Homo sapiens: one gene and its partners. The protein of the gene in region 2 interacts with the protein of the main gene of each other region in a biochemical or structural test. Each region holds a gene or a part of one and is shown on either strand. Other genes may lie near its edges. The genes, in order: PTPRF, NID1, FBLN1 and FGA.

Region 1 (7,044 bases), about 190 Mb from region 2:
ATTTTATTTATTTGTTTATTTTTGAGATGGGGTTTTGCTCTTGTCACCCAGGCTGGAATGCGATGGTACGATCTTGGCTCACGCAACCTCTACCTCCTGGGTTCAAGTGATTCTCCTGCCTCAGCCTCCTGAGTAGCTGGGATGACAGGGGCCACACACCTGGCTAATTTTTGTACTTTTAGTAGAGATGGGATTTCATTAGCTGGTCTCGAACTCCTGACCTCAGGTGATCCACCCGGCTCAGCCTCCCAAAGTGCTGGGATCACAGGCATGAGCCACCACGCCCAGCCAGTAAAAATTTATTTACAAAAACAGGTGGTGGGCTGTACTTGGCCACGGGCCATAGTCTGCCAACCCCTGCTTTAAATGACTCTAGCTCCCAGCCTTCAAGTCTTCCGGCTGAGGGCCCAGACTTTCTGGAATAAAGACAAGCTGTTCCTGCTGTGCCCCTGTCTGAATTCCTGCCTCACAAAAACTGTGACAGATAATACATAATTATTGTTGTTTTAAGCCACTAAGTTTTGGGGTAATTTGACATGCAGAATAACCAGCTCATACATACACAAACCCTGTGTGTATGCATTAGTTCACTCATTCCTTCATTTGTCTGTGTGTTCATTTCACAGGCATTCAACAAGAACCCATCGTGCGCTGAATACAAGGGATGGGGGATGACAAGACACAGTTCCTGGCACCACAGAGCTCAGAGACTGTCACTGAGGTAATCCCAGCTCACTGTGAGAGGCGTCAAAAGGAAGAAGGAGGGAGGTTCCTGGAGCCAAGAAGAGACACCTAACCCTGTGGGGGTGTGGGCAAGAGGAGAGGTCTGAGCTGTGTCTGCTGGGTGTTGGGAGGAGTAACATTTCAGGTAGAAGGAAGAGGTGGACAGCCCCATGAGAGTGGCTAGGAGAAGGGGCAGGTACGTGGTATGGTAAACCTGGGGTCGGCCTCCAGGAAGGCTCAGGTGCAGGCACTTCATCTCCCCACAGATGTCTGGTGAGGCATCTCCCACTGCTAACATGCCCCTCTTTCATGTGGAGGCGTCAGAGCGTGCGCCAGACACTGGCCACCCTGTGGCAGAGACGTGGGCTCTGGGAGGTCCTCAGCCCATATTCAGAGGCCTTGACTGAAGACAAGGCAGTGGCTAAGTGGCTTTGCCACCTAAGAGGGTCCTGGCCTGGGGCACCTGTCCAGCTGCAGGATATGGGGGCTCCCCAGTCATTCCAACCAAAGTGGATGAGCACAGGGAGAAGGGCAGAAAGGAAGAAAAGGAGCAGGAACAAGTGCATGCGGCCCAGGAACTTCAGTGGCGACCCTGAGACCTGCAGAACAGACCCACAGGCCTGCTAGGTCTGGGCTGGGGGCACACAGGCCATAGGAGTGCCCTACCTGGGGTCTGGTAGTTGAGCCTCCGCATCTCCACAGGGTCAGAGGAGTGGGCCAGCAAGGAGTCCTTCAGTCCGATCGACTGCTCATCCTTAGAGGACGGAGAGTGGGTCCTTTTCCTAGAGAGACAGAAGGGAGGCTGGTGAGAACCTGAGGTCCAGGCTGAGACAGTGACACATGGCATGGCTGGCTGCCAAGGAGCCCCCATGTCCACGGCTCTGTCCTCCTACTGCCCCACCTCTTCCCAGGATCTCTGAGCGCGGAGGAGCCAGGGCCAGAACAGCCTTGACATGAGAGAACACAGGGCAGGGAGGGGGTAGGGAGAGCAGGAGTGTGGCGTGAGCAGAGGGGCAGTGCAGCAGGGAGGAAGGGGTTGCAGGGGCGAGCAGCTCCTTTGGATAGAAGGCAGGTCACTGCAGGACAGTGACTGCTATCTCCAAGGCCACCCAGCTGAGTAGCAGGAACCACCGGGAACAAACATGCAAATGACACATAAAATACACAAACAGCACAGGAGACAGGGCCCCAGCTTTTTGGCCCTCAGAGTATCAGGGTAAATGCCCAGGGCAGCAGGGGAGGGACGGGAAAGGCGTCACCCTAGCTGGGCAGAGTCCTCTCTCACTGGCCTCAGTTTTCCCATCTACAAGGACAGGGTCAGAGACAGACCATAGGATTCAGCTGCCAACAAATAGCCAGAGGCTACTTGTGGTCTGCAGACGCATGTGCTTCGGAAAGAAGAATTTGAGTGAGTGTGCTCAGGTGGGTACAAGGACATGCCTCTCTGCTGTTCCACACAGTGACTGCTCTTTGCTCTGTGCGAGACTGTCTCTCGCAGCACTTAGGCAACTTCTCAGAGAACTGGGAGCCGGGTGATGGTTCTGGTGAGCTCTGTACGCTCAGGGAAAGCAATGCAGTCTGTATTATGTATGTGCCCCAGAGAAGAAGCATCCTCTGCAGAGTTGAACTGGCAAGAGTGAGACAGAAACTGCCTCCTCACACCAATGAGGACTCAGTCCTGAACCAGGGAGCCTGCTGAGCTGACTGGACAGTTTGCTGCTTAAAGCCATAGGCCAGGGGACTTCTGGTCAAAGCGTCATCCCTCCCTGCTGGCCCAAGGATTAGAAGTAGAGGGGGAGGTGTGTGAAGAGAGAAGGAACAACTCCTACCTTTCTTGTTTACTAGGTCCCGAAAGACAAGCAAGGACAGAAGAAAGGAACGGTCACAGTTTCCACCAAGCACTCAGCCCTCTAATGACATGGGGACCCTGCAGGCCCCTTATATGGCACCCACATGACATTCACAGGGAGGGGGTCTACCTCTCTGGACAGACCCAGAATGCAGGTGGAAGTGGGAAGGATGAGTGCATCTGTGGGACACTCCTTAGGGACCCGCCCACAGGTCCATCCACCCTGGGAGGAAGGAGTGGACTCTTTAGGAAGGAACAGTGGGTCCAGGGTAGGCACACAGGATACAGGCTCTCCTGCATGGTGCAGAGATGTGCTCAGACACACAGACTAGCATATCTTCATCTGCCAGGTGCTCACTGACATGCCTGTGGGCTCAGCCCAGTGCTGGGGGCTGAAGGCTTGGCACACAGGCCCAGCTGCGTTTGCAGTGGAGCATCACAGGGGACAGCTGTGCAAGGAAGGGGTAGGGGCCAGGCAAGGCCTTGCAGGCACCAGAGCATGGACTTGAGTCCTGAACGATGAGATTGCTGTTGCCAAGTGGGCAGGGGGAGGGAGATCCGCAGAGGGCACACCCTGTGTGGGCCTGAACACTGAATGAGTTCAGTGTCGCAATGTCAGGAGTGTGGCAGGGGTCAGATTAGCCAGGTGTTTGGCTGTCAGGCTAAAGAGGGTGGGCTTTACGTGGGCAGCCATCAAAAGGTTTTAAACTGAGAGTGACAAAGTTAAATCTTTGGAAATCCCTTTCAGGCTGGAAGGTGCACGGATAGGAAGGGAGACTCCTAGGGCAGGTGGTGGCCACTGCCGATAGAGAACTGAGTGGGAAAGACACACTGAGGCTGAGGCCGCTGCGGATGGCACGGGCACAGCAGGCCATCAGTCATGTCTGTTAGTGAGCATCCATGGCCTGTGGGCCTCCAGCTCGACCTCTCTAGGCCTAAGCAGGAGAGTAGGGCTGGGGAATCATCCAGGAATGGTGGCAGAAGGAAAGGACTCGAGGTAGGAGCTCAGGAGATGGCGGTGTCTTAAAACTGAAGAGGAGACAGACGCACTCTTATCCACAGAAACACAGAGACAGACAGACGTGCCAGGGATGCACATGAGACAACCCTCTGAGGCTTTAGTTCCTCACGCCCAGGCTGCTGCAGAGGCTCCCTCACCTGACAGATGCAGGCCTGCAGACACAGGTAGGCACACACACTGCTCCTGCCCTTCCTGCCTTCCTGCTGAGCCTGAGGCTCAGGGTCCAGGATGCAAGGCTGCACGCTCTCCACAGGCACCACACCCGGAGAGGGCCTGAAAGGCGAGGGGCAGGTGGCCGTTCCCGGAGCTCTGAGGGCAGTGCTCACCTTTTGAACAAGAGGATGGCGATGACAATGAGGATGATGAGGATGACTGCCAGCACGGGACCCGTCACCCACAGCATCTCCGGCTCCTCCTGCTGCTGGGCTGGTGTCACCTGGACCACGATCTCATCCGAGTAGGGGCTGGAGGCATAGCGCTTCTGTGGCCCGGTGGAGAACAGCAGGCTGTGAGCTCAGCGTGAGAACCCCCCACCCTCTGCCTATTAATCCTGGAGAAAGGGCTCTGGGTCTGGGTTACCCTGGGCCTGGTCTCCCAGACCCTACAAGGTGGACCTGGCAGGACTGGGTCCCTGGAGCCACATTAGGTCTGGCCTCTGGGTCCCAGGGCCGCGTCTTAGGATCCCCGGGACAGATCTTGGGTCTTTAGTGCTGCCCCAGGATCTCGAAGCCCCCAAACTGATAAAGACCTGGGGTCTTGTGGTGTTTGAGACTGGCATCGTCTCAGGCCAGGCCCAGGGAATCAGGGTGCTGACAGCCAAGCCGGCTCAGGCAGACCTGGTCCATGGGTTCCTTCAAGGAGGCAAGCACAAAGCACTGGTAGCTCAAGTCCGGAGACAGGGGCCGGTTGTAGAAGCCCCGGTAGTTCTTCTTGTCCCCCAAGGTAAAGGTCTCCGGGAGCACATCCAGTTGAGCAGCCACATATGGCTTCAGACGTTCTGCCTGCCGCCGCCGCCGCCGCTGCTCCTCTCCGCCTTGCTCGATGGCTTCTAGAAGCTGGCAGAGCAGAGCATGGGGGTCATGAGGGGCCTTGGAGCATGCCGGCCAGCCCTGAGGCTGTGGCCTGGGATGTCAGCTCCCTGGGCCGAGATCAAGGCTCACCTTCCGTGTCAGAGCCCACACCTGCCCAACCCACTGCCCCTACAGAGTAACAGACACCGTGAAGCCACTCCTCCCCACCAGCCCATGAGAAGCAGCCCTGTGTGTAAGCTGCCCCACCCTAACCAGGCTGTTGCCACACTGGCTATGAGAAAGGACTGAAGGATTTCAAACATTCAGGGACTCCTGGCTATAAGGCTCACTAAGCCCTCCATAGCTTCTAGATCTGCGAGGCTCTGCAGTGTCTACAGGGCTTGGCATTCTCTAGACCTGCAGAGGCATCTCCACGACATCCCACCCCAGGGATTCTTCGTAAGCCCTCCGGGAGTTCTGTGAATACTCCCAGATGGTTTCCTCAGAGTCCCTCTCTCCAGAGAGGGGCGGGCTGCCAGCCAGAAGAGAGATTTCAATTTGGGGAGTGAATCTGAGAGTCACTGGGACAGTGCTCAGGGCAGGAAGGCCACAGCTGACCACTGCAATGGGGCTGTCAGTGTCCCCATCCCCTCCCCAGGTACCTCGTCCAGCTCCAGTTCCTCGGGTGTGCTCCACCTTGGCGTCAGCATGCTCCCGCCCACACGGTCAATGGGCACCACAACAATGTAGAACCACCTGGGTGGGCAGGGCAGGAATCAGGACTGTCACTGCTGGTTACCTCCAGCCCTGCCCCGCCTCCCCCGATACCTCGTGTGCACACCTGACAAGCGAGGGGTCTTGCACATGGGGCATGGAGAGATCGAAGCGGCCGTCCTCTATGTAGGCAGAGGCAGGCAGCGGCTTGTGAGGCAGGAGGTCGGGGGCTGTGCGGATGGACACCAGGTGCTGCAGGCCCCCTGCGCTGCTGCCACGGTTCATCAGCACAAACGAGTACTCTGTGTTGGGCTGCAGGTCTGCGATCAGCTTCCGCATCGAGTGCCCGTCCACCTCCACACTCTGCCCATTGTACAGAATCTGTGGGGGACGGGAGGGGCAATCAATGCCTTTGGGTGAGGTTCCCTACCACGGGCTGCAAGGCACAGTGCACGGATACACAACCACATTCCTGCTCCACAGCCGGATGCACATGGGTTAGGACTGGAAAGACAGCACCCAGCAGGCCTGTGTGTGTGCCAGGCTCAGCTGGCCGTGGCCCTTACTCACCTTAAAGGGCACAGCTGACTTATAGGAGTCGGGAACCTCCCAGCTGAGCAGCACAGACGTCTTCATTGCAGCCGCCACCCGGAAGTTCTTGGCAAACACTGCAAAGGCATAGAGAGAGTCAGCTCTGCTGGGTATATGAGGTGGGGTGAATGGGCTGGAAGGGTGGAAGGTGAATGGCCAGGATGAGACACTGGTTGGGGAACAGGGGGTTGAAGGATGGCTGCAGAGTACCAAGCGCCCCACTCCCAGCCAGCTTCAAACGGCACAGTTGAACTCCCAGCCCAAGCTCTTCCACAGTGAGCACCAAACAGGGCGGGGGATGCCACAGCAACCAGGGTCAGAATCTCCAGAAACGCGAGTGTAAAAGCTTGAGCCGATGGACACCAGGCCAGAGTGATCAGAGGGTCAGTGGGTTTCGGTCATGAGAAGCATGTGGCCACACACCAGAGCGTGGTGGAGCATGTTCACTAGAGGTCGGTGGGTCATGGCCCCAAGAGATTAGTGTCACACACCAAAGATCAGGAGGTTGCACACCCAAGAATAGTGACACAGTCAAAAGAGATCAGTGGGTCAAGGTCACAAGAGATCAGAAGGTCATACAGCAGAGGTCAGTAGGTTAAGGACAGCAGAGGTCAGGCATCAAGAATGTGGTGCCCATTCACTAGAGGTTAGTGGTCACAGTCATGAGAGATTGGAGGTCACACACCAGAGGCTGGTGGATCACAGTCGCCAGAGGTCAGTGGCTCAAGGAGAGCAGAGACCCCCAGATGCAGCCACACTCGGGAAGGGATGCCATGTCCACAGCACACACCTTGCTCCACCGGCATGGTCCGGGACTGGATGCTGGGGCTGAGTGGGCCAGAGCCTTTGCTGGTCCATGCGCGGACCTTGATGTCGTAAGTGGTGTCTGGCTTGAGGCCAGTAAGGGTAAAGCGGGTGTCTGTCGTGATGTTCTGCAGCTCCTGTTGGCTGTTGATGTCTCGGAACACCACGGTGTAGCTGATGATGCGCCCGTTCCTCTCCGCCAGCACTGGCGGGTCCCAGGCCAGTTCTGTGGTAGACGTGGTCAGTCCTGTCACATGCAGGTTTTGGGGGAAGCCGCTGGGCAGGTCCTCGGGGGTCCTGATCTCCTTCTCGAACTCCTCACCCAAGCCAGC
Region 2 (7,044 bases):
TGATCCACCCTTCTCAGCCTCCCAAAGTGCTGGGATTACAGGCGTGAGCCACCATGCCCGGCCTTTTTTTTTTTTTTTTTTTTTTTTTTGAGATGGAGTCTTGCTCTGTTGCCCAGGCTGGAGTACAGTGGCACAATCTCAGCTCTCTGCAGCCTCCACCTCCCAGGTTCAAGCAATTATTGTGCCTCAGCCTCCCGAGTAGCTGGGATTACAGGCATGGGCCACCACACTGGCTAATTTTTGTATTTTTAGTAGAGATGGGGTTTCACCACATTGGCCAGGCTGGTCTCCAACTGCTGACCTCAAATGATCCACCCACCTCAGCCTCCCAAAGTGCTGGGATTACAGGTGTGTGCCACCGAGCCCGGCTGGAAGGATAGTTTCTGACTAGAGAAATTATTAATATGAAACGATAGGTTAAAATAACAAAGTACTCCTGAGGGATGCAAAGATAGAAAGGTAAAGCCCAGACTCTAGTTGGGGAGACAAGAATCATTTGGACCATGTGAGTGGTTCAAAACCCAAGTATTGTCATAACCCAGGGTTGGCCTCTCCGTGGGCGCAGTCATCAGGGACGGCTGGAAGGACCAGGCTGTAGAGCACGGACTTGCCCTTGAAGGAAGCAGGGTCTTTGAGTAGGTCAGGAACTCGTTGTTAGACCTGAAGTGACTTTTTAGGACAGGCCTCGATTTTCCCTTGGAAAAATAATTTCTCTCTACCATAACTTCACCTTTATAGGAAAATGAGGAAGAAAGAAACTTGAAGGGTCCCAAAGCACTTCATATAAATGGGAGGTATTTCAGGCTGGTGGTTCCTAAAGTGTGTACCACAAAACACCAGTCCTACAAGATACACCTTGAGGAAAAGGCCTTCTAGTTTGGGAAATGCTAAAACTATATCTCCCTCTTGGTGATTCACCCTGTTCACTCTGAAAAGTCCTGCAGTCAGGAAACTTGCAACTTGCCTAATACTACTTTTTTTGTTTTTGTTTTTGTTTTTGTTTTGAGACAGAGTCTTGCTCTGTCACCCAGGCTGGAGTGCAGTGGTGCCATCTTGGCTCATTGCAATCTCCACCTCCTGGGTTCAAGTGATTCTCCTGCCTCAGCCTCCCAGGTAGCTGGGACTAAGGGCGTGAGCCACCATTCCAGCCTTGCCGAATATTGTTTAACTGAGCAGTCTCCAAACCTGTGACCATACCTCTTCCCTTCCCCCGCTCCAAAAAAGATGCATTACATCCCACAGAGCACACTTTGGGAAAGTCTGTTAGGGGCCTGCATGACACATTTTGCTTGCCAACTGTTATCTGTCTGAGTGCCAAACTTGAAAACAGCTTAAATGTTAAGTGTCTCAGCTGCCTCCCTTTCACTTGGGTGATAAATGCCTAACCCATTGGTATGGATCCCTTGCTTGCCTCTTGGGCCTAATCTGTTCCACCTCCGCATACCCTTTGCAGCCGCTATACCAAATTACATGTAATTCCCTGACCTTGCCCTTGCTCTTTTTTTTTTATCCGCAGTATCTTGCACAGGCTGTCCTCTCTGTTTGGGACGTCCTCTCCCTGACCCCCCTACAGGTGGCAGCTTCCTCCTGCTTGTTCATTCAGACTGGGCCCTCCCGTGAGGCCTTGACCAACCACAGCCTCCTGGCATGGGATGCACTCCCACCGCTCCTGGCATGGGACGCTTCCTCTTACGGCTCCTGCAGCGCTTTGCAAATGTTTCGATTACAGAATCCAACCTCAGGTTTTGCAATGTTTTCTTCACATGTCAGCCTTCCCAAAGTGCTGGGATTACAGGCATGAGCCACCGCGCCCGGCATGTGCCTGCTCTTTCATACGTGACCTCATGTAGTCTTCCTCATTTCTGTGAAGGAGGTGGTTTTATCTCCATTTTACAGATGCAAACATCGAGGCTTAGGGAACTCAAGTATCACGCCCAAGTCACATAATAATGAGTAGAGCAAAGATTTGGATCCAGGTCTGTTTTCTCCCAAATCTCATGTTTTGTTTTGTTTTTTCTACTGTACGGTGCTTGGGTTCAATAAATGTTTGTTAAACGATGAATGCGGTTGAATATGTTAACAGCCATGGAAACAAAGTCTTTGGGTAAGAATTTCCTAAACTGCGTGAGATTTTAGGCCACCATCTGGAGGTACCATCTGTATAATTTTTGGTTAACCTTAGGGCCACAGTTATGCAGAAGATATTTATGAATTAATCAGAAAATGTCATGTTGACATAGCCTTAGGGATATTTCAGTGGAACTATCCCAGAATCCTAGGTTCTTGCTACAAAAGTCCTTCTTTTAGAATAAGGTGAGAATATTGCCATCGCTCTATAGCACTGTACGCTTTATAGATAGTCTGGCGAATAACACATTTTAAAATCTATCGATATTTTTCCGAGTAACTGAATTTTAACTCATCTTCACAGAGAAACACGTTCCAGGCTGTTCTAGCCTCCTCTGATTCCAGCTCCTATGCCATTTTCCTTTATCCTGAGGATGGTCTGCAGTTCCATACGACATTCTCAAAGAAGGAAAACAACCAAGTTCCTGCCGTGGTTGCATTCAGTCAAGGTTCAGTGGGATTCTTATGGAAGAGCAACGGAGCTTATAACATATTTGCTAATGACAGGGAATCAGTTGAAAATTTGGCCAAGTATGCTTTCTTTGTTCTTCAGTAGATTCTCCTCTTAATATTTTTTAATGTGGATAATGTAATGTGTATTATAGATCATTACCTAAAAATGTTCCTATGGATTTAAGTTTTGCATATAGTTTTTATATTATGAGATACTCTTTTTCTGATGAACTTAAGGAAATGTATTTTTAGAATGAACAGATATCCTATTTTTTAGATATCATCCTCATTTAAAATAGTTCTTTTTTTTTTTTTTTTTTTTTTTTTTGAGACAGAGCCTTACTCTGTTGCCCAAGCTGGAAGGCTGGAGTGCAATGGCACAATCTCGACTCACTGCAACCTCTGCCTCCCAGGTTCAAGTGATTCTCTCGCCTCAGCTTCCCAAGTAGCTGGGATTACAGGTGTGTGCCACCATGCCCAGCTAATTCTTGTATTTTTAGTAGAGACGGGGTTTCACCATGTTGGCCAGGCTGGTCTTGAACTCCTGCCCTCGGGTGATCTGCCCACCTCAGCCTCCCAAAGTGCTGGGATTACAGGCATGAAGTGCCGCGCCCGGCCTTAAGACAGTTTTTACCATTTTGTCTATAAACACTGTTAGAAATAAGGGTTATTCAAACCTATCTCCTTTGATCTCAAGGCTGAGAAAACCTTTTCCTTCACATTGACTAGGGGGAATATTCTTACAACAGAAATGGTGCTCTCAGGTTATGTTGTAGAATTTGACAAAAGAGGGAAAAGCCCAAATTGGATTTTGAAGATTAAAACCTTTCCTCTCCCATTATTCTTTAAAAACCAAGAGTGAATCCCCTAAAACCACCTTTTAATTTTATATCTTCAAATCTAGCTTGAATTCCTCTGCCCTTCACTTAGTGATGTGCTGGTAAATGCTTAACAACTGGTTTTATGAGGGCAGAGGAACCTGATTTATAGCGTTTGCCTGTTTCTGTGATGTAAATACTCCTACGATGGCCAAGTTCAAGTTATTAACGTCATGTCACTCATTGAAGAGTTCAGAAAACATGCACCATTATATATATTCTCACCATAAAGATAAAATAGGTTTAATATATATAATTTCAAGAGCATGGACAGTAGCAAAAGGATTAGAATATGATGAGTTTTGAATATTTTTTCCTTTTAAAAAATATAACTTGTTTAATTGGAAGTTCATGTAATTTAATTGTTTAGAATGGCTGTGTTTAATAACTGGCTTGCAAAATTCCTAAAACTTTAACAGCCAGCTCTCACAAGCTAGTCCATATAAGCTCCCACACACCACTGTCTTTACTTGAATCCCAGGCAGACAAATTGATTAGACATCCTATTTATGCAGGACTTTTGTGATTTATCATCCCCACCCCACCCCATTGTTTTGCTCAGTATTTTCCACTGAGTAATGTATGTCCCCTCTGTCCACCGTATAATATAATTATTTCATGTAATTTCTGATAGGAGCACTTCCAATCACAGACACAGAAGAATGGTAAAAATGGTGGAGGAAGAAGTAGAGATTAGGGATATTCTACTATATTTTATAGTTATAAAATGCTTTTGGATTTTGTATCTCATTTGCTTTTCACCATATCCTTTAAGCACCAAAGGTAAACTGAGACTAGTCCAAGATCTCACAGCCAATGGAGTTGGGATTTCTTTTTTTGTTGTTTTTGTTGTTGTTTTGAGATGGAGTCTTGCTCTGTCGCCCAGGCTGGAGTGCAGTGGCACGATCTTGGCTCACTGCAAGCTCTGCCTCCCGGGTTCACGCCATTCTCCTGCTTCAGCGTCCCGAGCAGCTGGGACTACAGGCGCCCACCACCACGCCCAGCTAATTTTTTGTATTTTTAGTAGAGACGGGGTTTCACCATGTTAGCCAGGATGGTCTCGATCTCCTGACCTCATGATCTGCCCTCCTCAGCCCCCCAAAGTGCTGGGATTACAGGTGTGAGCCACCGCGCCCGGCCCTGGAGTTGGGATTTCTAAAAAACCACGTCTGCAATGTTTTCACTCACACTTCTGACACCAAATGGGTGGGGTTTTTTTTCCCACACCAACCAATTCTCTGCACACCAGCCGGGTGTCCTACACTTCAGTTCAATTCTAGCACTGGCGTTACTGCAGACCCCACAGGTTAAGGGCTCAGTCCCACAGGACTGCCCCCACTTCAGATGCCAGTCCCAAGTCCTGTGTTTCCACCTGTACTTCTGACCAACCAGCTATAAATGGAGGGTTTCCATGGCATGCTCCTCAGATTTGATAATTTGCTAGAATGGCTCACATAACACAGAAAAATGCTTCACTATTACCAGTTCATTCTAAAGGATACAACTCTGGAACAACCAAATGGAAGAGAGGCATAGGACAAGGTATGGGTAAGGGGGCAGGGTTTCTATGCCGTCTCTGAGTACACCAGCCTTCCCGCACCTTGATGTGTTCAACCCAGAAGCTCTCTGAACCCCATCATTTTAGGGTTTTTATGGTGGTGTTATTTCATAGGCACAGTTGATTAAATCACTGATCCTTGGTGATTGACTCAATCTCCAGCCCATCTCCCCTCCCTGGAGGCAGTGGGGAAAGCTGGACATTCCAACCTTCTAATCATGCCTTGGTCTTTCTGGCCACCAGCCCCCATCCTGAAACTGTCTAGGAGCTCCCAGCCATCAGTCAACTCATTAGCCTACAAAAGACACTCTTATCACTTCAGAAATTCCAAAGGCTGTAGGAGCTCTTGTTTCAGAATGTGAGGACAGAGACCAAACATGTATTTTCAATTGTATCATACCATGTCATGGAAAGAGATAGTGGAGAGCATGAATGACTTCAGTCCTAAAGCCACTGTCAGTCCTATGAGCCACCTTAGCTCATAAGGTAGAGCATGTAACCAGCAATTAGGATGAGCAAGTTGAATTTTAAGTCCTGATAGTGTCCCTGGAGCACACTTCTGGAATGGCTGGGACTGAGCTTGTGCTAGTATTGTGCCCATTTGGACACAGTCTCACCAGACAGCCCTAGACTGCCTCAGCCACATGACGCCCAGACATGACGGCCAGTGCCCTTCCACTCTCCAGTCCTAGCTGCAGGTGATGGCTTGCAGACCAACACAGATCCTCAGGGCTCCCTCTGCTTGGGTAGTGGTGGCTGTTGGTGGGTTGCTGGCCTGTTTCTAAGAAGCCTGTCCTTCCTCCTAGGAGTAGTAACTCTGGGCAGCAGGGTGTCTGGGTGTTTGAGATTGGGAGTCCAGCCACCACCAATGGCGTGGTGCCTGCAGACGTGATCCTCGGAACTGAAGATGGGGCAGAGTATGATGATGAGGATGAAGATTATGACCTGGCGACCACTCGTCTGGGCCTGGAGGATGTGGGCACCACGCCCTTCTCCTACAAGGCTCTGAGAAGGGGAGGTGCTGACACATACAGTGTGCCCAGCGTCCTCTCCCCGCGCCGGGCAGCTACCGAAAGGCCCCTTGGACCTCCCACAGAGAGAACCAGGTCTTTCCAGTTGGCAGTGGAGACTTTTCACCAGCAGCACCCTCAGGTCATAGATGTGGATGAAGTTGAGGAAACAGGAGTTGGTAAGACCATTTAAGTTGCAGTTGGTAACGATCTTGGATGTGTGGGCTTCCAGACAGGCGTACTGCTGGGGAGATGTCAGTTGTGAGCATTACATGGTGGTTTGTAAAGATAAGAGCTTGGGAAAGTAGAGGCTGAACTCTCACAGCCGTGGAGCCTTGGTGTTATATGCCCAGTGGCTTCAGAGATGCTCAGTGATCTTTTGGGATTAGGACCATGGTTTTGGAGACTGTTGAGTGTGTCTTCTTTCAAGTTTCCTAGTATTCCGTTCTGTCTGTTTTAAAGAGAAAACGTCCGTTAGAATTGTTTTGAAAGTCAGATTTTCTTGTGATTTCTCAGATCAGAAATGTATTCATCCACCTGAAAAAACATTTTAGAAGTTCTTTTGGCTGTCTATGAAGCTTATCTTTGACATTTATTTCCTCTTGGTTTTGGAATTAGAATTGTTGATTATTTTTCTTCCCAGGTCCCGTCAGTTTCAGAGTTGGTTTGTGAAGATTAAAAAATATATATATATCAAAGTAGATACTCTTTAAAAAAAAATAGGGTCGGGGGTGGTGGCTCACACCTGTAATCCCAGCACTTTGGGAGGCCGAGGCAGGTGGATCACAAGCTCAAGAGATTGAGACCATCCTGGCCAACATGGTGAAACCCCATCTCTACTAAAAATACAAAAATTAGCTGGGCGTGGTGACACACGCCTGTAGTCCTAGCTACTTGGGAGGCTGAGGCAGGAGGATTGCTTGAACCTGGGAGGCAGAGGTTGCAGTGAGCCGAGATCATGCCACTGCACTCCAGCCTGGCAACAGAGTGAGTCTCTGCCTCGAAAAGAAAAAAAAAG
Region 3 (4,797 bases), on a different chromosome or scaffold from region 2:
AATTTTGGCAGCCAAGTTCCTCTCTCTGAGCCCAGTTTGTCCATCTCAAGATTGTGTGTGATCATACCCACCACACTGGGCCACCAGGAGGAATGAGCGAAGCACCTCATGTCAAATGCCTGGCCCAGGCCTGTGTCTGGCAGGGACTCATGGCTGCGGAAGGGTCATTATTTGCCCCCAGGGATTTCTAGAGAGGATCAGGATGCCACGAGGGATGCTATTGGAAGCAAGTCACACAGAAGCCAGAGCCCTGGGCTTTCCTAGCAGCACTGGACATGGGGCAGGGAACAAACCCGAGCCACACTTCTCAGAGGGTGGGCATGGCATTGAAAACGACGTGTGTAGGAAGCTTTTCCAATACACAAGCTGGGCCCCGCCCCAGAACCTTGAGGGGCAGGAGGAGCACTGAGACAACCTTGGGTGGGGTGAGGCAGGGGGACGGCGGGGGGAGATTTCCAGTCCCTTAGCTGGCGGAAGACTCCTGAGCTGGCAGAGAGCCCTCTTCTTGAAAGACTCTCATGCACAGGCCATCAGGAGGATCACAAAGTTGTTTATTTTCCCACCTATAAGAAAAGATGGATGATGCAGAGTGCCGAGAAATCCCAGCCATTCCCCTGGTGAACATACTGGAGGCCCACACGAGCCTAACAGGCTGTGTCTTTACCAAGGGATTTTCCTCTATTTCAACAGAACTGCAATTTCCCTTCCAAGTGCTCCCCGAGGCATTCTGTCATGCTGCTTCTGGGGATAATTTATCATCCACGTCTGTGCTATTCTACAGCAGCCATGTCCTTAGAACATAGAAAATCTGATTGGCCAAAAAAAAAAAAAAAGTGCCAAAATGTCAAATTTCATACAATCAGGGCAAGAACTGGTCTTCTTTTGGCATTTGGACTGGCTGCCCCCTAAAAAATGTCTTTCTTTCCTTGGCCCTTAGCAAGGCCCAGCCAGAGGCAGAGAAAGGGGGTGACACTTAGCCTTCGCATTAAAAAATGAGCAAGGTTTTCAACCAAACAGTTGAGCAACTGGGCTCATTTTTTAAACACCGAAAATACATCAGATGGACTTATTCATCTGGCTCAGCTTAATACATGTTGGCCTAATGCTACAAATACCTAACATTAAAAAAGTCTGAGGGTATAAACAAGTACAGACCACAGTCACTGGCAGCAATGATTTGGCCTGGAGGTGCACCTGCGGCTGTGCGGCAGACCAGCCCTCAGAACCAGTACTCAGAGACGAAGATGTGGACGTTGACAACATTTCGGTGGGAGACCACGCCCCCGACCACATAGTTCATCTCCAGCTTCAGGACGGCATGAAATGGGCCCACGATGGGCCGCACCTGGCGCACGACACCTGCGGAGAGAGCAGAAGGTGTGCTGGAAGTTAGAAGGGACTGCAGCAACGTAGAGATCTGGGAAATGGTTTCCCTTGAGGAGTTTCAGAGCTAGAAGGAGGCATAGACCTCATGGAGTCCCATCCTACGCCAGATGCTCGAGTCCCCTGAATAACATCTCCTTCCAAGTGGTCAGCTCAGGCTCTGCTCCTGCCTCCAGGGACTGGTGAAAGTGAACTCACTACTTGCTGGGACAGCCTTTCCATCATGCACTGCCCAACCTGGAGGAAAGTTGTGGGTGTGGGCTTTGAAACTGGATGGCTCTGGGATCAATGCCAGCTTCTGAGCCCAGGTTTTCTGCTCTACCACCATTTACCTGACAGGTGTTTTTTGTTTGTCTTTTGTTTTTGCGACGGAGTTTCACTCTTGTTGCCCAGGCTGGAGTGCAATGGCGTGATCTCGGCTCATTGCAACGTCCACCTCCCGGGTTCAAGCCATTCTCCTGCCTCAGCCTCCCGAGTAGCTGGGATTACAGGCATGTGCCACCATGCCTGGCTCATTTTATATTTTTAGTAGAGACGGGGTTTCTCCATGTTGATCAGGCTAGTCTCAAACTCCTGACCTCAGGTGATCCACCCGCTTTGGCCTCCCAAAGTGCTGGGATTACAGGCATGAGCGACCGTGACTGGCCTACCTGAAAGGTTTTAAGGGAGCCTAGAAGAGGGCCTGGCATGCAGTGGGTACCTGATAGACATCTTTCTCCCTCCTTCCAACCCCCTGTGCCCAGTTCTGACCCCTGAGAAGAAATGAAGCAGGCGTATCCTCTCCCCCAGAACATCTGAGGACTGCAATGGGCCCTGGATCCTCCTGCAAGCAGAGCACCCCCAGTTCTCCATGGGGCATGCCTCCGGACCCCTTGCTGTGCATGCCTCTGTGGAGGCTGACACCTGAGCTCACTGTTCAGTGTTTGTGATAACAGGGAAGCAAGAGGTGGCTGGAGTGACAGAGGATCAGAGCAGCAGTGGCGTCCCCAGGGCAGTCAAAAGGAGGATGGGTGGTGCAGGGAGACTGGTGTCAGTTCTGGGGAAACAGCTGGGGGTTGCAGGGAGCTCTGCCTGTACCAGGGTAGGGATCAGGCAAAGACCGTGGCCAGAGGACAGGGCACAGACAAAGCTCAGCCACGGCAGGGTAGAAGAGGAGCAACCCCAGGCATTCTGCAGATTCCAGGGGATCCGGGTTAGCGGGTAAGGGAGTGGGTGCCACAAGTCCTCCCCAGCCTGGGCCCGCCATCTCCATGGCCCCCGACCAGGCCCAGCTGGCACTGCCTTCCCTCTGCAGGGCACCCAAAGCCTCACAGAGACTCTCCCATACTCTGTACGCAGTGAGAGTATGGGACAGTCCTCACTGCACTGCGGAGAGGCTGAGGCCCTTTTGAGGCCTAGGTTCCCCAGCAACAAACGGTGCCATGCCCCTGTGCTCCTGCACTGCACGATTCAGATGCCCAGCATCTGCCAAGGCATCAGCTCCAGCTGTGCAGAGCGGCCTTCCCACCAGAGCAGAGCACTCAGCAGATCCCCTTCGCATGCACACATGTGCTAAACAGGTGCTGGGACAGTTCCCAGGGTTCCAGACATCATGAACAGGATGCTGGTTTCAAAGCTGGTGGGAGATCTAGGATGAAAGGTATGCACCACGCTCTGATGGAGGGTGTGCATTGTCCAGCGGGGGCGAGAATGGAGGTGGGGAGGGCTGGGGAGTCAGGACAGGTTTCTTGGAAGAGGCACCCCTCCTGCAGAGGAAGCTGCACAAGCCAAGGCTACAGGCTGCTCCCCAGTGTCTGCGGCCAAACAGGCACAGACCTATGGGTGCTGACATTTATGAATGAACCGCCAAGGTCCCTTCTCCGTTCCACATGTTCTGACAGTAGGATTTGTCTAAGGTGGTGTTGAGGGTGGGGATGTGGGGTAACTATCTAACAGGTGGCTCTCTGGTCGTACCATCGGCCAATTTCTATGGCAAATTTCCGGTACCACGTGGCAACACTGAAAGTGGACTTGTGGAGAGATGTGTACAAGCAGCTCTCCAGAGCTGGTGTGAGCAGTGTGAACGGTGTGAGCTGGCACTGAGACACCTGCTTGGATGCTCTGTGAAGAGCGAATATGGAGCCTGCAGCTTCACAACCACAAGTTGAGAAATAGCTACTGACTGTTTGCCACAAACGGCTGATTCCAGGCTGGATTCTGTGAACAGTTCCTCTGCAGGCTTAGGAAACGTGCACGGTGACAGCCTATCTCCACCTCTTGGTGCCCAGGACACAGCAAAGGCTCAGGGGAGAACTGAGGGGTCAGGAAGGCCTTCGGTACGAGTGGCTGGTTCCTGGTCAGGAACATCAAGTTCACGCTCAGAAAGAGAATCTGGGCACAACGTTCCCCCCTTTCGCTCTCTGGGCTTATGTTTCAAAAGTGAAAGGCCCAGCAGCTGGGGTGGAATTTCAGGCTGTTCCCTAAGCAAACATGGGCTTTAGCTCCGATGGAGAGATAAGCACAGGCTTCTGCAGGCTGTCAGCACCCTTGCTCTGCCTGCTACCTGGTGATGACATTGAAGCTTTGTCCTGCTTGAAAGCCCATGAACGTCTTCAGCTCCCGGCAAAAGACGTGCGCCTGTCACCACCCTGGGCTCGCCAGCAGAACCTGATGACGGGGTCACTCCTGCCTGCCCCTCCCTGGGCTGGGTCTGCCCACCAGGGTCAGTGTGGGCTTACAGGGCTGAACCTAACGTACCCCCGTGGGCCCCCTGTATGTCATATTTTTCTCTCCCCAGGCCCGAGGCCAACAATGGTGCCCCCGCTAGCCACAGTGACCTGCCAACTTTACTGGTACTAGGCGCAGAGACACTTCTTACCACCCTTCCTGGCATTCAGAGGTTTGGGGCTTGAAGGAGAAGGAGAGGCTGGGTGAGCCTGTGAATCACTGTAGGGAGGAATGGCAGGCACCTCCACAAGCAACAGTCAGATATGTCTTTGTTTCAGCTGGGTGCAGTGGCTCACGCTTGTAATCCCAGCACTTTGGGAGGCTTAGGCGGGCAGATCACAAGCCCATGAGTTCGAGACCAGCGTGGGCAACGTGGCAAAACCCTGTCTCTACAAAAAATACAAAAATTAGCCAGGCATGGTGGTGTGTGCTTATAGTCCCAGCTACTCAGGAGGCTGAGGTGGCAGAATTGTTTGAGCCCGGGAAGGTCAAGGTTGCAATGAGCCAAGATTGTGCCACTGCATTCTAGCCTGGGTGACAGAGCAAGATCCTGTCCCAAAAAAAAAGAGATCTATTTCTGTTATTATTATATTTCTGTATATTATATAGTTTCATATATGATATATAACTATTATACATATAAAACAATATATTAAAAATATATGTTATAAAGTATGTCAAATTTATATAACTGTATTTTAAATAGTT
Region 4 (3,012 bases), on a different chromosome or scaffold from region 2:
TTTCTTTCTTTCTTTCTTTCTTTCTTTCTTTCTTTCTTTCTCCTTCCTTCCTTTCTTCCTTTCTTTTTTGCTGGCAATTACAGACAAATCACTCAGCAGCTACTTCAATAACCATATTTTCGATTTCAGACCGTGATAATACCTACAACCGAGTGTCAGAGGATCTGAGAAGCAGAATTGAAGTCCTGAAGCGCAAAGTCATAGAAAAAGTACAGCATATCCAGCTTCTGCAGAAAAATGTTAGAGCTCAGTTGGTTGATATGAAACGACTGGAGGTAAGTATGTGGCTGTGGTCCCAGATGTCCTTGTTTCTGAGTAGAGGGAAAAGGAAGGCGATAGTTATGCACTGAGTGTCTACTATATGCAGAGAAAAGTGTTATATCCATCATCTACCTAAAAGTAGGTATTATTTTCCTCACTCCACAGTTGAAGAAAAAAAATTCAGAGATATTAAGTAAATTTTCCAACGGTACATAGATAGTAAATTTCAAAAGCAAATGTTCAGTCCCTGTCTAATTCCAAAGCCCATTACATCACCACACCTCTGAGCCCTCAGCCTGAGTTTCACCAAGGATCATTTAATTAGCGTTTCCTTTGAGAGGGAATAGCACCTTACTCTTGATCCATTCTGAGGCTAAGATGAATTAAACAGCATCCATTGCTTATCCTGGCTAGCCCTGCAATACCCAACATCTCTTCCACTGAGGGTGCTCGATAGGCAGAAAACAGAGAATATTAAGTGGTAGGTCTCCGAGTCAAAAAAAATGAAACCAGTTTCCAGAAGGAAAATTAACTACCAGGAACTCAATAGACGTAGTTTATGTATTTGTATCTACATTTTCTCTTTATTTTTCTCCCCTCTCTCTAGGTGGACATTGATATTAAGATCCGATCTTGTCGAGGGTCATGCAGTAGGGCTTTAGCTCGTGAAGTAGATCTGAAGGACTATGAAGATCAGCAGAAGCAACTTGAACAGGTCATTGCCAAAGACTTACTTCCCTCTAGAGATAGGCAACACTTACCACTGATAAAAATGAAACCAGTTCCAGACTTGGTTCCCGGAAATTTTAAGAGCCAGCTTCAGAAGGTACCCCCAGAGTGGAAGGCATTAACAGACATGCCGCAGATGAGAATGGAGTTAGAGAGACCTGGTGGAAATGAGATTACTCGAGGAGGCTCCACCTCTTATGGAACCGGATCAGAGACGGAAAGCCCCAGGAACCCTAGCAGTGCTGGAAGCTGGAACTCTGGGAGCTCTGGACCTGGAAGTACTGGAAACCGAAACCCTGGGAGCTCTGGGACTGGAGGGACTGCAACCTGGAAACCTGGGAGCTCTGGACCTGGAAGTACTGGAAGCTGGAACTCTGGGAGCTCTGGAACTGGAAGTACTGGAAACCAAAACCCTGGGAGCCCTAGACCTGGTAGTACCGGAACCTGGAATCCTGGCAGCTCTGAACGCGGAAGTGCTGGGCACTGGACCTCTGAGAGCTCTGTATCTGGTAGTACTGGACAATGGCACTCTGAATCTGGAAGTTTTAGGCCAGATAGCCCAGGCTCTGGGAACGCGAGGCCTAACAACCCAGACTGGGGCACATTTGAAGAGGTGTCAGGAAATGTAAGTCCAGGGACAAGGAGAGAGTACCACACAGAAAAACTGGTCACTTCTAAAGGAGATAAAGAGCTCAGGACTGGTAAAGAGAAGGTCACCTCTGGTAGCACAACCACCACGCGTCGTTCATGCTCTAAAACCGTTACTAAGACTGTTATTGGTCCTGATGGTCACAAAGAAGTTACCAAAGAAGTGGTGACCTCCGAAGATGGTTCTGACTGTCCCGAGGCAATGGATTTAGGCACATTGTCTGGCATAGGTACTCTGGATGGGTTCCGCCATAGGCACCCTGATGAAGCTGCCTTCTTCGACACTGCCTCAACTGGAAAAACATTCCCAGGTTTCTTCTCACCTATGTTAGGAGAGTTTGTCAGTGAGACTGAGTCTAGGGGCTCAGAATCTGGCATCTTCACAAATACAAAGGAATCCAGTTCTCATCACCCTGGGATAGCTGAATTCCCTTCCCGTGGTAAATCTTCAAGTTACAGCAAACAATTTACTAGTAGCACGAGTTACAACAGAGGAGACTCCACATTTGAAAGCAAGAGCTATAAAATGGCAGATGAGGCCGGAAGTGAAGCCGATCATGAAGGAACACATAGCACCAAGAGAGGCCATGCTAAATCTCGCCCTGTCAGAGGTATCCACACTTCTCCTTTGGGGAAGCCTTCCCTGTCCCCCTAGACTAAGTTAAATATTTCTGCACAGTGTTCCCATGGCCCCTTGCATTTCCTTCTTAACTCTCTGTTACACGTCATTGAAACTACACTTTTTTGGTCTGTTTTTGTGCTAGACTGTAAGTTCCTTGGGGGCAGGGCCTTTGTCTGTCTCATCTCTGTATTCCCAAATGCCTAACAGTACAGAGCCATGACTCAATAAATACATGTTAAATGGATGAATGAATTCCTCTGAAACTCTATTTGAGCTTATTTAGTCAAATTCTTTCACTATTCAAAGTGTGTGCTATTAGAATTGTCACCCAACTGATTAATCACATTTTTAGTATGTGTCTCAGTTGACATTTAGGTCAGGCTAAATACAAGTTGTGTTAGTATTAAGTGATGCTTAGCTACCTGTACTGGTTACTTGCTATTAGTTTGTGCAAGTAAAATTCCAAATACATTTGAGGAAAATCCCCTTTGCAATTTGTAGGTATAAATAACCGCTTATTTGCATAAGTTCTATCCCACTGTAAGTGCATCCTTTCCCTATGGAGGGAAGGAAAGGAGGAAGAAAGAAAGGAAGGGAAAGAAACAGTATTTGCCTTATTTAATCTGAGCCGTGCCTATCTTTGTAAAGTTAAATGAGAATAACTTCTTCCAACCAGCTTAATTTTTTTTTTAGACTGTGATGATGTCCTCCAAACACATCCTTCAGGTACCCAAAGTGGCATTTTCAATATC

Evidence for each region.
Region 1: the proteins of NID1 (region 2) and PTPRF form a complex in vitro, tested with the Homo sapiens proteins (one study listed by BioGRID).
Region 3: the proteins of NID1 (region 2) and FBLN1 form a complex in vitro, tested with the Homo sapiens proteins (3 studies listed by BioGRID).
Region 4: the proteins of NID1 (region 2) and FGA form a complex in vitro, tested with the Homo sapiens proteins (one study listed by BioGRID).

Annotation. Positions count from the first base shown.
Region 1 is NC_000001.11:43,603,844-43,610,887, reverse strand, and holds part of PTPRF (receptor-type tyrosine-protein phosphatase F isoform 1 precursor), read right to left. Parts: coding exon 6,699-7,044; intron 5,986-6,698; coding exon 5,888-5,985; intron 5,699-5,887; coding exon 5,445-5,698; intron 5,360-5,444; coding exon 5,266-5,359; intron 4,649-5,265; coding exon 4,430-4,648; intron 4,075-4,429; coding exon 3,920-4,074; intron 2,565-3,919; coding exon of another isoform or gene 2,553-2,564; intron 1,506-2,552; coding exon 1,390-1,505; intron 1-1,389. UniProt on the Homo sapiens protein: Possible cell adhesion receptor. It possesses an intrinsic protein tyrosine phosphatase activity (PTPase) and dephosphorylates EPHA2 regulating its activity.
Region 2 is NC_000001.11:236,041,071-236,048,114, reverse strand, and holds part of NID1 (nidogen-1 precursor), read left to right. Parts: intron 1-2,431; coding exon 2,432-2,658; intron 2,659-5,822; coding exon 5,823-6,205; intron 6,206-7,044. UniProt on the Homo sapiens protein: Sulfated glycoprotein widely distributed in basement membranes and tightly associated with laminin. Also binds to collagen IV and perlecan. It probably has a role in cell-extracellular matrix interactions.
Region 3 is NC_000022.11:45,596,869-45,601,665, reverse strand, and holds the end of FBLN1 (fibulin-1 isoform D precursor), read right to left. Parts: intron 1,360-4,797; coding exon 1,220-1,359; 3' UTR 531-1,219; downstream 1-530. UniProt on the Homo sapiens protein: Incorporated into fibronectin-containing matrix fibers. May play a role in cell adhesion and migration along protein fibers within the extracellular matrix (ECM).
Region 4 is NC_000004.12:154,584,775-154,587,786, reverse strand, and holds the end of FGA (fibrinogen alpha chain isoform alpha precursor), read left to right. Parts: intron 1-129; coding exon 130-275; intron 276-868; coding exon 869-2,293; 3' UTR 2,294-2,512; downstream 2,513-3,012. UniProt on the Homo sapiens protein: Cleaved by the protease thrombin to yield monomers which, together with fibrinogen beta (FGB) and fibrinogen gamma (FGG), polymerize to form an insoluble fibrin matrix. Fibrin has a major function in hemostasis as one of the primary components of blood clots.